2 separate regions of the Homo sapiens genome follow, and region 2 is linked to region 1. Evidence: fine-mapped expression QTL. A gene starts in region 1. The other region holds a variant in brackets. All regions are shown on one strand. Distances are from middle to middle. Region 1 holds the start of KRT19 (keratin 19). Region 2 holds the start of KRT34 (keratin 34).

What was found. PIP is the estimated chance that this variant, and not a neighbour inherited with it, causes the effect.
Region 2: its variant is fine-mapped to the expression of KRT19 in fibroblasts (GTEx, PIP above 0.99).

The regions. Positions count from the first base shown.
Region 1 is chr17:41,524,404-41,532,673 of GRCh38, forward strand. It overlaps KRT19 (keratin 19), which reads right to left and starts at 3,905. Exons shown (of 6, transcript NM_002276.5): 1 at 3,425-3,905; 2 at 788-870; 3 at 440-596; 4 at 1-137. The coding sequence starts at 3,844. RefSeq lists enhancers at 3,102-3,801, 3,802-4,499, 4,500-5,197, 5,198-5,895 and a cis regulatory region at 5,601-6,453.
Region 2 is chr17:41,377,336-41,385,665 of GRCh38, forward strand. KRT34 (keratin 34) reads right to left here and starts at 4,971. Exons shown (of 7, transcript NM_001386014.1): 1 at 4,564-4,971; 2 at 4,378-4,460; 3 at 3,721-3,877; 4 at 2,235-2,396; 5 at 2,018-2,143; 6 at 1,621-1,841; 7 at 334-811. The coding sequence starts at 4,911. The coding sequence ends at 724. RefSeq lists an enhancer at 3,964-5,163. The variant G/C (reference allele first, on the strand shown) is at 4,597.

The sequences.
Region 1 (8,270 bases):
TCCTTCCGGTTCTGCTCGGCCATGACCTCATATTGGCTTCGCATGTCACTCAGGATCTTGGCGAGATCGGTGCCCGGAGCGGAATCCACCTCCACACTGACCTGGCCTCCCACTTGGCCCCTCAGCGTACTGATTTCCTGTAAAGATACAGCAGAGATGGGCATGTCAGGGCCCAGACCCCACTGGGCCTGGCCCAGGTCACTTCCCCACCCTTCAGGCTAAAGGGGCTTAGTTTTCAGGTGCAGGCCTAGTAACTAGCACTGGGGGACAGACTGGGTCATCACTGATTCCTCTTGGAACCCTGGGATCCATGATCCCACACCCAGGGCCATGGTGAGGGTGCACCAAGTGTTACCACGGTCAGAGAATACAGAATAAAAGAGTCTTCAGCCCTGGGAGGTTAGGGAAGGATGGAAGAAAGGCCCAGCTTCAAACCCACCTCCTCATGGTTCTTCTTCAGGTAGGCCAGCTCTTCCTTCAGGCCTTCGATCTGCATCTCCAGGTCGGTCCTGGCCAGGGTCAGCTCATCCAGCACCCTGCGCAGGCCGTTGATGTCGGCCTCCACGCTCATGCGCAGAGCCTGTTCCGTCTCAAACCTTTCAAAGGAAATAGTTGCAGCCAGGCAGAGCTTCCTCAGCATCTCTGAAGACTTCCCTACCTCCCCAGAGTTCAGGAGTCCATAGGGGGGTTAGCTTCAGGCCATCTAGGCTAGGTGAGGGCAGATTCTAAACCCCCCAACCCCTACCCCAGTCCTGGCTTCTGCAGCCCCCAGGACAGAGACACTCACTTGGTTCGGAAGTCATCTGCAGCCAGACGGGCATTGTCGATCTGCAGGACAATCCTGGAGTTCTCAATGGTGGCACCAAGAATCTGGAAGGCAGAGGCAGAGGTTGGTACCAGTTCAACACACAGGCACTGCCCACTCACTTTCTTCCCAGAAGAGAGAGGGGAGCAAATGAATATACCCCGGCACCCTAGAGACCAAAGCCCTAGCCAGCATCTGCCGCCCATTGGCCCGCTCTCTGGGAGGCCTTGCAAACAGTCCATGCCCAGAAGCTGGGGCAGGAAGAAAACTGGAGCCAGGGGGACTTGGGTGGGGGAGGGCAGGAAGGCAAGCCTGGGGAGGAAATCTCTGAGACCTGTGTGCAATGAAACTCTAAATGGCCTGAAGGGGGTCTATAAACCAGATGGGGGGTAGATTTTGTCTATACCTGCCCCCCCCACTATGCGAAGCATATTTTGCCCCCAGGGAAGAGAATCCCATTTGTTGAGTATCAATTATGTGCCAGGCACTTTGAATCTCATCTTTTATAGCTTCTGGAACCTCACTGCTAGGTCAGTGGGTACTCCTATCTTACAGAGGTGGAAACTAAAGTTTAGGATGATGCCTCATCCAAGTTCACCCCAACCTGAGGTCTTACTGACCTAAGAGGCGCATTCACAACAGCCAGCTTATCATTGAATAAGGTAATTGTGTTCTGTTTTTCAAAGAGCAGGTCATCACTCATTAGTCAAGGCACCAGGTGGTGATTGTATAGTTTTGTGTTTTGGGGGGGTTTTTTGGTTTTGTTTTTTGGGGTTTTTTTGAGACAGAGTCTCGCTCTGTCACCCAGGCTGGAGTGCAGCGTCGCGATCTCGGCTCACTGCAAGCCCCGCCTCCCGGGTTCACGCCATTCTCCTGCCTCAGCCTCCTGAGTAGCTGGGACTACAGGCGCCCTCCACCACGCCCAGCTAATTTTTTTTTGTATTTTTAGTAGAGACGGGGTTTCACCGTGTTAGCCAGGATGGTCTGGATCTCCTGACCTCGTGATCCGCCCGCCTCCGCCTCCCAAAGTGCTGGGATTACAGGCATGAGCCACCGCGCCCGGCCGATTGTGTAGTTTTTTAATGCAACAGAATAGGCTACAAAATATCAGAGGGGATTTCTCTTAGTATGGTGAGAATTGTGTCACCCATTTGTGTGTGTGCATGTGCACGCACACACACACACAGAGGTGAGAAAAAGAATGCGTAAGGGTGCGTAGTAAAATGTACTTATTGTCGCAATTTTTTTTTTTTTTTGATACAGGGTCTCGCTGTGTTGCCCCAGGCTGGAGTGCAGTGGCACTGATCACGTACAGCTCGCTGCAAGGCACACGCCACCATGCCAAGCTAATTCCTTTTTTTTTTTTTTTTTTTTTTTTTTTGAGACGGACTCTCGCTCTGTGGCCGAGACTGAAGTGCAATGGCGCAATCTCGGCTCACTGCAGCCTCCGCCTCTTGGGTTCCAGCAATTCTCCTGCCTCAGCCTCCCAGGTAGCTGGGATTACAGGCATGCACCACCACGCCCAGCTAATTTTTGTATTTTTAGTAGAGACAGGATTTTACCATGTTTGCCAGGCTGATCTCGAACTCCTGGGGCTCAAGCAATCCTCCCACCTTGGCCACCCAAAGTGCTGGGGTTACAGGCGTGAGCCACAGTGCCCAGCCCCTGTAGGTCACAATTTTACAAGTGTGTAAAGCACTGTTTTTGTTGGCTGTTGACATCTCTAGCGCTTCCTCCTGGTCTGTGGGTCTGGGTCTATGCCACGAGTACAGCACTGGAAAATATTTTGGGGATCTGTTTGTTGGGAGACCCAGCGTGTGCGGCTGTAAATGTTCCATGGCTTCTGATACATTTCTTTACGACTCGAAAAATTTCTCCTTCCCTCTGGGTGGAGACCAAGCCCTACCCCTCAGGCCCCTTAGGGTTCCCCTGTAAGAGCGTGTGACGCAGATCCGTTCTTTCCCCGACAAGGAGCTGCCACTGTACTGGGTCCTCCCCAGCAGAGGTTTACCAAGCCTCCCTCCTTTACCCCGCCCAGGGGCCACGACCGGCTCTCCCATTCTTCCTAAACGAATGGGCCCCAGGGCGGGAGAGTGGGAGGAGGCCAAAGCCTGAGAGGGATGAACACTAGACCCTTCCGGCCAGAGAAACGGAATGCAGGAGGCCCTACGCTGCGGTGGCAGAGGGGGCAAGACTGGCCCCGGGTGGACCAGATCACCAAAGCCAAACTCTCGCATCTTCCTGCGGCAGCGCGGCCCCTGGCCTAGACCTCTGGGCACTCTACAGCCGGGTCCCATCTCCTCCCACTCTTCAGGCCTCGCTGACCCGCGTCCCTTCTTCGTCCCGGGGCTCCAACCTTGCCCCCGCCACCTCCAGAGGCCCCACCCACTTATCTGCCCTGCCCAGTTCTCCTCCCCTTTCCACCACCCCGGCCTCTGCATCCAGCCCCGAGGTCCTGCCCCGCACGTCTCCTGTCCCCCTTTACTCGGCCCCACCTGTGGACCTTCCCACGTCCTAACGGGCTCCTGCCCGCCGCCCCGCCTGGAACCTCGCCCGGCCCGCGGGGCTGGGTTTCCGCGGCAGGTGCACTGCACTTCCCGCGGCCGGGCCTCCGCCCACCTTGTCCCGCAGGTCCTGGATGGTCGTGTAGTAGTGGCTGTAGTCGCGGGAGGGCCCAGGCCCCTGCTTCTGGTACCAGTCGCGGATCTTCACCTCTAGCTCGCCGTTGGCCGCCTCCAGGGCGCGCACCTTGTCCAGGTAGGAGGCCAGGCGGTCGTTGAGGTTCTGCATGGTTAGCTTCTCGTTGCCCGCCAGCAGCCCGTCGGACGCGGTCAGGACGCCGCCGTAGCCGCCGCCGTAGGCCCCCGAGGAGGACGAGGACACAAAGCGGGCGGAGGACACGGATACGCCGCGGCCGCCGGAGCCCCCGTGAATGCTGGGCGCGCGAAAGGCGACCCCCGGCCCAAAACGCACGGAGCCGCCGCCCAGGCCTCCGAAGGACGACGTGGCCGACGACTGGCGATAGCTGTAGGAAGTCATGGCGAGGCGGAGCACGGACGGAGCAACCCTGGTCTCAGAAGCTGCGATTCGCGGGAGGAGCGGCGAGGCCCTCACCTGGCGCCTTTTATGCCCGCGGCCGGTGGAGGGGGGAAGGGAGGAATGGTGTCAGGGGCGGATATCTGAGCCCTGAGGAATTTGCAGGCTCCTGAGAGCAAATATGGGCTCTCTCCCCATTGGTCAATTCCCTCCCCTCCCAGAGACCAGAGGCCCCTGCCCTCCAGAGGTGCCCCGCCCCGGTCCGCGCAGAAGCTCCGACCCGCACTCCCCCACTCTCTCTCTGCAGACCCTGTTCTGGCCTTTCCCCCGTCAGGGACATACCTGGACACCCCTGTCCCTGGAAGCCACATTCTGAGCCTCACCCTTTAAGATCACCCAGAGTTTGACACCACTGGGAATTACAGTCCCTCTGGGGTCATATTCCTACACACCCCTGACCCAGTGATTTTGTTTTTGTTTTTTTGGAGACGAGTCTCTGTCGCCCAGACTGGAGTGCAGTGGTGTGATCTCGGCCCACTGCAGCCTCCATCTCCCGGGTTCAAGCGATTCTCCTGCCTCAGCCTCCGGAGTAGCTGGGATTACAGGCACGCGCCACCACGCCCAGCTAATTTTTGTATTTTTAGTAGAGACAGGGTTTCACCATGTTGACCAGGCTGGTCTCAAACTCCTGACCTCAAGTGATCCACCCGCCTGGGCCGCCCAAAGTGCTGGGATTACAGGCGTGAGCCCCTGCGCCCAGCCCCAGTGATTAACCATTCAGAGTGCTCCCTGTTAAGAGCCCCTTGCTTGCGATCCTAACCAGCCCGCCCCCCACAAAGTGCATTCACAGATTCCTGCCCTCCACTGGAGATTACAGCCTCTCAGAACCAGCTTCTTGGGAACACCCATGCCCAACTCCCCTTTTGTCCCCTCTGACAAAGGCACCAGTTCCGGATCAGGGCACATCCGGGCATTTTGAGCTGCACGAACCCAGCCCTCTCAAGACAAAGCTGCCTCACCCTGCTGTCGCCATTCAGTGCCCCAGGTGACAACAGTCTCCTGAGAACAGCTGCAGGGAGCGGTTCTGGCAGCTGACACCTTTCCAACACTAAGCTCCAGCCTGATCCTCACTCTGGAACCCTCAAAGCCCACTCGTCCCTGGCCACCAGGATGATCCCCTCCCTTCCATCCCCCAAAGCATGCGTTCATTCAACCACAGGAGTATTGGGCTGCTTTAATATTTCCAAAATGAGGAAGCAGAGCCTGGGAGAGGCCAGTAACTTGCCCATGAGGCATTTAGCATCTGCCACTGAAAGGCAAACATAGGATGAATCCCTGCCCTCCTTGTCAGAGGGCTGCTGAATGCATGTCCTCATCCTTGTATAAAGATGAGTGCTTGAATGAGCTGGGCAGAGCGACACAAAGTGCCCGGCACAAGGTAAAGGTTTTGACAATAGAGGCAGGGCCTTCCTCCCCACACAGCCCCACCCCTTGCTCTGTTCAACAATTCCACCCACCGTTTTGGATCTCTTTGGAGGGCCATGCCCCCTGCCAGGCACTACAGGGCGCTGCAACAACCTCACCCCAGTTCCTGTCCCCAGTGACCCCCGTCCCCAGAACTGTCCCCATGGTTCCTTCTTGTCCTTATGGCAAAGCATTCACCCAGGCTTGGAACAGAGGCCCTCCTGAGAAGGTATTAAGGGAGACAGGCCAGTCCCTGCCCATCTCTGGGTCTCAGTTTTCCCTCATGAAAAGAGGGGTGGCCCAGCTCAGCCCTCTTCTCTGTGTATTATCACCTGGGTCACCTGTGACTGGTGGAGACTTGTCTCCAGCCTCGGAAACCTAAGTTCCCAGCAAACTACCTGTTAGCTGCCAACTCATCCTTGAACTGGGGCAGGAAACCCCGTAAATACACACCCCTAACCCACCAGGAACCGCTCTGAGCCCTCAGGAAGGCCAGTCTGAGGCTGTTTAACTAGTGAATCAGTTGCAGAAAGACTGAAGGTCTTTGGAGAGCCCAAGAGGGAGAAAGGGGAGTCCAAGACCAGCCATAAAAGCCAGCACCCTGTGACTGGTCAGCTCTGAGTCATTCCCTTATCAGGCACTGATGAGGAGGCCTGCTCCTTGTTAGCGGGAAGGGAGATTGGCCAGATAGTTGCCATGCACACAAAGCCCCAATAGGCAGCTCTGTTTTTCTGGCCTGATAGGGGGGTCTGGGGAGGGACTTTGTATTAAAGGGCAAAGAATAGAATCAACAGTTCCATTCGTAAGATTAAGGTGTTCTGAGCTCCCTAACCTTCAGAGGCACTTGGAGTCCCAGCCCCCTACTCTAAGACCATAAACAGAAGGACAGTTGACTACAGGGTAGCACAGTTTAGAGCCTTTTCAGATCTCACTGGATCCTCACAGCAGCCCAGTGGAAAAGGTATTCTTATCTCCATTTTACAGATAAGGAAACAGAGGCTTGGTGAGAGGCAGTAATTTGCCAAAGGTCCACCGCTAGGAGTATCAGATTCTGGCCTCCAGCTTCTTGACCATCAGCCAAGAGTAACGGAGGCCCTGCTCTCCCTTCCAAGGAAGTCTCGGCCCCCAAAACAACTCCTTTGGGTGCCTTCCCTCAAAATCTTATCATGCCAGTGCCAAGGGCAGTCAACCCCAGACTGAACTGTTGGCTGGGCTAGGGAGAATACCTTGTTCCCTCTCTCTGGCCAGAAACAGTGCCTGGCCATGAGGTATGTGGCCTTTGGCACTTTCTGATTCATCAAGGACTCAGGAGAACAGTCTGTAGAGGCTGCCCTACCCAGAGATGGAACTGGAGGTCAAGCTGCTGCTCCCATTTAGGAAACAGTGCTCACAACCAGGAGGCTCCCATCAGCCTCTGGCTTCAGGAGGGCAGAACCTGGTCAGAGGAGCATCCATCCAATGTTCATGTCTCCAGTCTCAGGTCTGGGGTCTGCAGAAGAGGGGTACAGAGGGTCAGAAGTGATGGGTATGGAATGGTGAGCTCAAAGGAATCCCAGGGAGGATCCTGCCCAGCCTTCCCCAACTGGATTCTACAGAACCCCAGCACTATGAGATCCCTGCAGGAAAAAAGATCCCTGTCAAATAAGATCGGAAACTCTGCTCTCTCTGACTCTCTTTTGGAGTTTCACAAGGCACAGTACCAGAAGCCCTGGAAACCTCATTTCCTCATTTGTAAAATAGAGATGATGATGATGAGGAGGAGGAGGAGGATACCTATTTCAGAGGGTTGCTTCAAGTGATAAATGTAATGGTGCTTGTAAAAGGTTTATCACACCTGGCAAATAGCACTCAAACAGCATTATTATTATTATTATATAATGTTATTTTTATATAGTATTTGTTACTATAATTTTGGCTACAAGTGTTATTATTTAACTTTCTTTAACCAGTATTTCCCAAGTGCACTGGACCATGGAATCTTTAAATATCTATTAATAACCCATGAATTACAGAAAAAGCCAGTCCAGCCCCAGGATGCTCAGAAAGGTAAAGTGACTTTCCTGGGGTCGCATGATGATTCAACCGACTGAACTGAGGCAGATCTGGGATTCATTTCTAACTCCTAACACTGAGGCTGAGGCCCCCTCTGCCTCTCCACTTGGACATACACATGAAGCTTCTTATCCTTCAGCAGATGCAGGTGGTTCCCAGAGTGGAGAGGTTAAAGGTAGGGGGGTTTTCATCATCCCAGGAGAAATGGGATAGTCATTGGAGACCACAGGAAAGAAGCTGGGGGTGAGAGACCTAGTCCTTGGATAGAATGGAATGGTGTGATAATGACAACAAGAATAATGATGACCAAGGTGATAATAATACAGTAGATAATCATAGCCAACATCTACTGGGCCAGGCTCCATGCTAAACACTCTGAATATATTATCTCAATGAATCATGTTAATTAAGTATTATTGTCCCCATTTAACAGTCAAGAAAATTGAGGCTCAAAACGGTTAATATCTTGTCCAAGGTCACACAAGTAAGTAGTGGACTGGGTATTTGGGCCAAAATCTTTCACTCCCTCAAGCCACAGTCCCAATTGCTAATGCTGCCCTCCTCTCATGGGAAAGGGATCAAGGTGCCTTCTTCTGCTGCCCTGGAGAAAGAGCCACCAAGTTGGGGAAGGCATTGTATCATCTGCCAAGATCCCAACTTGCCCTGCCTGCTCTGATGCACAATTATTTGTTTGGTCAGTCAGTGGGCCATTCAAGCAAGTTTCCTCCAAGTTGAGCCTAGCAGAGGAGACAGACTCGTGTCCATGAGCAAAGCAGAAGGCTCTGTTCATAATCTGGAGGAGAGGAAAGGTAAATGTGTGGAAAACTTCATGAGCTTGCATGTCCTGTCAATTAGTAGCTCCTTACCTGAACGGCCTCCGCTTCCCCAGGGACCACCAGCACAAGGAACTTCC
Region 2 (8,330 bases), 150 kb before region 1:
AGTTTAGGAGAAAGGGAAGCAGAACATTCTATTCTGATGAGGGTGAGAGCTGGAGATAGCAGTGAAGTCTGGGGAGGCTTTGCAAAATTGCCAAGGGCCCTGTAGTCAAGGCAAGGTAAGCATGGGTATTGAAGGCCAGGTTTCCTGCATGGCCTACCCTGGGTGGGAGTCTCCCAGAAGGACGTCCTTCCCTGTCTACATCAGTGTTTCTGGTGAAGCATAAAGGCTTGGCTCAGTCATTTACTTCATTTTATTCTCCTAATGAAGGGGTATTTTTATGAAACAGCCATGATGAGTAATTTACAATGCATGAATATGAATGAGAAACATTTATTATGCCAGAGAAATGAAGTTTATTGGGAAGTAAATGAAGTCTCCTCCTTGCATTCCAGAGAATGCCAAAGAAAAAAGGAAAACAGGAAATGCAGTAGTACGTTCAGGAAACACCTTAAGTAGTAACTGGAGCTCAGATTACAGGGAGCTGAACATCTTTAGAAACAAACAGGCTCGACCCTCAACAGGAAGGAGTTGTCCAGACATTGGAAGTTGATGATGTGTGTCTTTGCTTGGGTCAGGAAAGCTTTTCAGCATTCTAGAAATAACATAGAGGCAAGATGAGGTTTCTTGATGTCAGCTGAGCTCCAGAAAAGTCAGGACTTGAGGATCCTTCCTGTGGTTGATCTAAATGGCTTTGTAGATGTCTTCAAAGAGGATACAAGCTTTTCAATTACAGCAACCCTTTTGAGAGGTGCCACAGGGTCCACAGGAGTTGCCACTAGCATTGGTGGTGGCGCATGGGTTGCAGGGGAGCCTAGGAGGACAAGGAGGTTTAGAATGGCTTTAGGAGGAGGTTTTAATGCACACAATACCTTGGGCTTAATGACACAACCTATGAATTCTCAGTGGCTGGAGTTAGTTGGAATCAAGTTCTTTTTGTTTTGTTTTGTTTTGTTTTTGAGACAGGGTCTTGCTCTGTTGCCTAGGCTGGAGTGCAGTGGTGCGATCTTGGCTCACTGCAAGTGGGAGCCAAGGCTCACTATGCCTCCCAGGTTCAAGCGATTCTCCTGCCTCAGCCTCCCAAGTAGTTAGGATCACAGGCATGCGTCACCATGCCTGGCTAATTTTTTGTATTTTTGGTAGCGATGGGGTTTCACCATGTTGGCCAGGCTGGTCTTGAACTCCTGACCTCAAGTGATCCACCCACCTCAACCTCCCAAAGTGGATTATAGGCATGAGCCATTGCACCCAGCCAGAATCAAGTTCTGATTACTACCAAACCCTTCTCTCTCTCCCAGAATGCCATGTGCAGAGGTGGAAAAATTGTGCTTTTCAAAAATATTATCTCATACTCTTGAGGTCTCCTGGAACTTAATGTGCCTTACACAAATGTTATTCCTACAACTGGCCAGCTCCTGCCACCACTCCTCCATTGTTAGCCCCCTGAGATAGGGGCTGTTCCCTTACCTTTGGCCTCCCTTTGCTTAGCTATCACAGATCACTGGACACATGCTACACAGTTAATGTGTGTTGCCTGACTAGTTGAAAACATGGCCACCATTTGTGTGCCTACAATATCCCACTGTACACATTCTTCCCAGACATTATTTGCCCCATACTCACTTGCAGTCCTCACTCTCCAGGAGGCTCCGGTACGTGTTGATCTCACACTCCAGCCGGGCACGCACGTCCAGCAGCACCTGGTACTCCTGGTTCTGCCGCTCCAGGTCACAGCGGATCTCTGCCAGCTGAGACTCCACGTTGGTGATCAGGCTCTGCACCTGGGACAGCTGGGAGCTGTAGTGGGCCTCGCTCTCCGTCAGCGTGTTTTCCAGAGAGTCTCGCTGTGGTGGGGAAGATCAGGAATGTCAGAGAGCTGCTCCTTCAAAGGGTTTCTTCACAGGATTACAAGGAAGTCACAAGCTCCAAGAGCTAAGGAGAGTGTGTGGCCCCAAGCACATCCCCGGGACTCTGCCTCCCAAGTTCCCATCGCTCACCAGCAGGTCTGAACAATACACACCAGGTTGTGCTGGGCCTGCAGCTCGATCTCCAGGGCGTTGACTGTGCGTCTCAGCTCGATGATCTCCGCCTGGCAGGACTGCAGCTGCTCTGAGCTGGATACCACCTGCTTGTTCAGCTCCTCGGTCTGAAACACCCAAGTGGGGAAAGGATCAGACCCTGTCTCCAGGGCCCTGGGGCACCTCGGGTCCTGAGTGGCCATGTGCTTAGATGCCCACCTGCGTGGCGAACCATTGCTCCACTTCCCTGCGGTTAATTTCCACCAGAGCCTCATACTGACTCCTGGTCTCGTTCAGGACCTGGTTCAGGTCCACAGTGGGGGCAGTGTCCACCTCCACGTTGAGGCGGTCTCCAAGCTGGGAGCGCAGGGTGTTAACCTCCTGTTGGAGAAAAGGGAAACAATGAACCTACGGCAATGGATCTGCCATTTTCCTGCTCCAGGGAAATGAGCACAATACTGCCCAAAAAGCACTAAAAGGAATATTCTGATCATTCCCAAAGAGTGACACACACATTTTATAGCAATAAACTCCAACAGGGATCACATCAATTGCTGTCCCATGGAAGATGTGCCATCTTCCTGCTCTGGGAAAATGAGCTTGATGCTGCCCAGAAAGCACTAAAAGGGGCCGGGCACAGTGGCTCAAGCCTGTAATCCCAGCACTTTGGGAGGCAGAGGCAGGTGGATCACGAAGTCAGGAGATCGAAACCATCCTAGCCAACATGGTGAAACCCCATCTCTACTAACAATACAAAAATTAGCTGGGCGTGGTGGCATGTGCCTGTAATCCCAGCTACTCAGGAGGCTGAGGCAAGTGAATCACTTGAACCAGGGAGTCGGATGTTACAGTGAGCCTAGATCACGCCACTGCACTCCAGCCTGGTGACAGAGCATGACTCCGTCAAAAAAAAAAAAGCACTAAAAGGAAGATTCTGATCATTCCCAAAGAGTGACACACACATTTTATAGCAATAAACTCCAACAGGGATCACGTCAATTGTTGTCCCATAGAAACGGAAACAACCTCACACCTTCTACAAGACTAAGTCTAAACTCCTTGGCATATGCAAGTCCTTCCTCGCTTCCCATCACATCTTCACTTTCATCCCTTGGAGGTACTGCATGCCCAGCCATACCCAGATACACCCTGCCCTGCCACTTCTGTGTCTTTGTTCAACCTCTTCCCTCAGACTGAAACACCCAAGTACTGGAATCCTCCTCTTTGCATCTGAGAAGAGTTCCCTATCTCCTCTTGGGCAGCCTGGATTATTTCTAGAGCATACTGCTTGTACATCTCATATGGTACTTGTTTCACTCTGTCTTGTTTATATCACTGTGTTTATATGACTGTCTTTCTATACTAGACTGTGAGCTCTTTTAAGAAAAGGGCCATGTCTTATTTCTTTTTTGTCCCTCCATCTCCACCACCAAATTCAGGACCTAGCAGTGATCAGCAGAGAGCAGGGCTCAATGAATGATGTCCCTCCTCAGTAATTCCAACACCTGCCTAACCCTCACCCAGCCGCTGAAGAATGAGCAGCTCACTCCACTCCTTGATATGGATGTAGCACCGTCACTCTCTGAGAACATCTTGAGTTCCTCAGAGAAGGGTCCCAGACCAGGGATCCAGACAGTAATCCTCTCCTGATTCCCAGTGCTAGTAGCTTAGTTCTGAGGCCTGCTTTTGTGAATTTGTTTCATACCTCCTCATGGTTCTTCTTCAAGCAGATCAGCTCCTCCCTCAGGGACTCCACCTGGGACTCCAGGTCAGACTTGCAGAGGGTCAGCTCATCCAGGATCCTGCGTATGCTGTTGATGTCCGACTCCACCAACAGCCTCAGGGACTGCTCCGTCTGGTACCTGCACGTGTCGGAGTGGGAGGATAAGTCAGGAAAGAAAACCACCTTCCCCTCTCATGTGTTGTTTGGGTAGAATTGGCCTGAATCTTCTTGAACTTACAGTTTTCTGCCTCTTCTCTTCCATATGCTTCAGTCAAGCTGTCCATGGATAGGCTGAAGAGGTTCCCTGACTCACCTAACACCACGAGGAGCCCACAGGCACACATGAGATGAAGTCTCTCACTGTGTTCTCGGTTTTGTTAGCTAATATACCACCAAATCAATTCCCAAAGAACAATTCATTTCAATCTCTGAATTTTGTGGTTTAAGAAACACTTCCAAAAAAAACCAGTATAGACCAAAGAGCAGGCAGCACATGAGTCTAGTTCCCTATTTGAAACTAATTTTACATAACCAGCCCTAGGAGGAGAAATAGAGAGAAATGGCTTTCTCCTCTCTTCCAGGCAATAGTAGGTCCCTAGGGCCATGAAAGAACCATAGGGACCTTGAAGTTCAACATACTTGCTTCTGAAGTCGTCAGAGGCCAGCTTGGCATTGTCAATGTTCACCACCAGCCTGGCATTCTCAGCCTTGGCACACAGAATCTGAAAAGAAATTTCTCTCATGAGGTACACTTGAACTTGAAAATGTCTTACTGTTCAAAGAGAGCCAGCTGCTGCTGGCCCCCCATATGGCCAACCCCCTCACCTTCTGCTGGAGCTCCTCAATGGTCTTGAAGTA[G/C]GACTGGTAGCTGGGGCACAGCAAGGGCTCCTGCTGCTGGGACCGCTCCTGGATGAGTTTCTCCAGCTCCGCGTTGTCCCGCTCCAGCTGACGCACCTTCTCCAGGTAGCTGGCCAGGCGGTCGTTCAGGAACTGCATAGTCTCCTTCTCGCTGCCATTGAAGGAGCCCTCACAGAACCAGTTGCAGTTGCTCACATTGGCGGGGATGTTGCAGGCCCCAGGCAGGGTGTAGCCGTGGCAGCTGGGGGGCACGCAGGGCCGGGAGGAGCAGCTGGTGCGGCAGCCCAGGCTGGGCAGGCAACAACTGTAAGACATGGTGCTGGAACAGGTAATGGAAAAGCAGGTAAGCTGCTGGAGGTGGATGTGGGCAGGTTTGAGTCTCTCCTTCCTCTGCAGTCCTTTTATACCATTAATTGTGGGTGGGGGCTTGGCATACAGCATAGTTTCCTTTCCTAATGCTTCAGCTAATTTTTCTCCAAAATATGCTAGTTAGATGCTTCTAAAGAGTCCCCCCTCAACCCATAAAATTATTCCATTCAGCTTATGTCACACCAGGCTCTTCCTGGGTGCTAGTGGTTGGTGAAATCAGAGTTTCATCAGATGGCTTCATAGGAGATAGAATCATCACAGCCCCAAAAGGCTGTCTGCATTACTCAGAGGGGAGGACAGCCAGGGACATGGGGTGGAGTTGTTTGGGAATCAGGGATTCCTCACCCAGGAGTTTCCGCCACTGTTCTTTCTCCCCAGAGAGAGAGCTCTGAGAGAGAGCTTTGAGAGTTACTCTTCCAAGTAGCTCTTTCCTCCCACATTCATCCATGTTTCAGCATTCAATTTGTTTTTATAGCAGAAACTCAACCTGTATTCGCCGAAATGATCCTGAGCCTTACTATTCGTTGGGGTTTAGGGAACTTGCCAACACATGGAGCAACTGAAAACAATGGCATGTTCATGGTTGAGAAATGAGAAAGTAAAATGGAAACCAATGGAATGGATGGGAGTATACCTAAAAGAGGGCATCTGCAAATGGCAGCCCACACGTCAAGTTTACCCTGCTGAATTTTTGTAAATAAAGTTTTTGTTTGTTTGTTTTCTGTTTTTTTTTTTTTGAGACAGAGTCTCACTCTGTCGCCCAGGCTGGAGTGCAGTGGCACGATCTCGGCTCACTGCAACCTCCACCTCCCGGGTTCAAGCAATTATCTGCCTCAGCCCCCCGAGTAGCTGGGATTACAGGTGCCCGCCACCACACCCGGCTAATTTTTGTGTTTTTAGCAGAAATGGGGTTTCACCATGTTGGCCAGGCTGCTCTTGAACTCCTGAACTCGTGATCCGCCCGCCTCGGCCTCCCAAAGTGCTGGGATTACAGGCGTGAGCCAATGCGTCCGGCAGTAAATAAAGTTTTAATGGAACACAGCCATGCCCATTTGTTTAGCTATTGTATATGGCTGCTTTTGTGCTACAGTGGCAGAGTTGTGTAGTTGTGACAGAGACTATAGTGTCCACAAAGCCCTAAAATTAAAAAATTTGCCAACTTGTACTAAAGCAACAGCCTCTCTAAAGATGAGCAAGAGTAGAAATATCTAGAAGAAAAAATATGCTGGAAACAGTCTGGAGCAGTGAGAGTTCAGATGGCAGCACTGAAGCATGAATATGAAGCATAATACTGCAGACTCACCAAGAAACGAAAATTGGAGCAAGGGTGCTCAGAGGTATCTTTGTATCCATGGTGGCTTTTTCTCAAATTCTCTGGAAATTTCTATCATCTTATTTCTAGACTTGTTCCTCTTTCTAGAGTATTAACTCTCCTAGAGGTATGACTATGCCAGCCTGAGATGCTTCCAGGACAAGCCACAGTGCCCATGAGAATGCAGATTTACTCTGTTGTCCCTACAAGTAGACACTGTCTCTGATAAGTGTGCTTCTATCACCTCTGGGATCCAGTTACCCTTTGACTCTTGCATAACCTAGGGAGCCTCTCTATTGCCCAATAATCACTCTTCACAGAATAGCCTTCCCTACCTCACTTCTTTTCCCTGTCACTCTACCTTGCCTTTGTTCCGCAGGGAAACAAAGTCATGTTTCAGAAAGAAGTCCCAAAAGATTATTTGTGGAACACAATACAAATCATTTAAAGAAGGCTGCATCTGAATTTCAAAAGCAGCATGAGAGGAGCAGAAAAGCACATCTTCGATTTTATTTATTTGAGTGTTTCCTCTTTTTTTCTTAGTCTATCTAGAGGTTTGTAAATTTTCTGTGTCTTTCAAAAAAACTCTGTTTCATTGATTTTTTGCTATTGTTTTTCTAGTCTCTATTTTTATTTATTTCTGCTCTAAGTTTTATCGTAAGTATCATAATAAAATTTAGAGCAAAAAGTGTTATTATATCCTTCCTGCTGCTAACTTTGAGCTTAGTTTGTTCTTTATCTTTTTTAATTTTTTAATTTTTGTAGGTACATGGTAGGCGTGTGTGTATGTTTAGATATAGGTTTATGTATATACATATATAAAACTTTCCTCTTAGTACTGCTTTTGCTGCATCCCATAAATTTTGATACGTTGTGTTCTCATTTTCATTTGTCTCAAGATATTTTCTAATTTCCTTTTTGATTTCTTCTTTGACCCATTGATTATTTAAATGTTTTTTAATTTCTACATATTTGTGTATTTTTCAGTTTTTTTCTTATTTCCGTTCTAGTTTTCTAGTTTCATTCCATTGTGGTAGGAAAAGATACTTAGTATGATTTCAATCCTCTTAAATTCGTTAAGACTTGTTTTGTGACCCAACATATGATCTATCCTGGACAATGTTCCGCATGCACTGGAGAATATGCATTCTGCTACCATTGGATAGAACGTGTTATTTGTTAGGTCCATTTGTTCTATAGTATTGCTCAAATCTGTTGTTTCCTTGTTGATTTTCTATCTGAATGTTCTATTCATTATCAAAAGTGAGTTACTGAATTCTTCTATTATTGCATTGTCCATTTCTCCCTTTGGTTCTGTCAATGTTTGTTATATATATATTAGGTGCTCTGATGTTGGGTTCATATATGTGTGCAATTGTTATATCTTCCTGGTGAATTTTTTCATTATTATATAATGTTCTTCTTTGCCTTTTGTGACAATTTTTGACTTAAAGACTATTTTGTCTGATATATAAGTACAGCCATCCTGCTGTCTTTTGGTTACCATTTGTACGGAATATTTTTTTTCCCATTCCTTCACTTTCAGCCTATACATTGTCTTTAAATCTAAAGTCAGTCTCTTCTAGATAGTATGTAGATAGTACTTGTTGGTTTTTTGAAAATCCATTCAGCTACTCCATGTCTTTTGATTGGAGAGTTTAATTCATTTACATTTCAATAAATTATTGATAGGGAAAGACTAATATTGCCATTTTGTTAATTCTTTTGTCTTTCTCAGAGTTCTTTTGTCTCTCTTTTCCTATCTTGCTGTCTTCCTTTGTGTTGCATGGATTTTTGTATCGATATGTTTTTATTCTTTTTTCTTTTTCTTTTGTGTATCTTCTATAGGTATTTTTTTGTGATCATCATAGGGCTTATATGAAACAACTTATAACTGTCTGTTTTCAGCTGATAACTTTCACTGCATACAAAAACTACTCTTTTGCTTCTCCCACACACATCTTTTATGTATTGATGTCATTATTTACATCTTGTTATATTGCATATGCATTAACCTATTTTTATAGTTATAGTTATTTTTAATACTTTTATC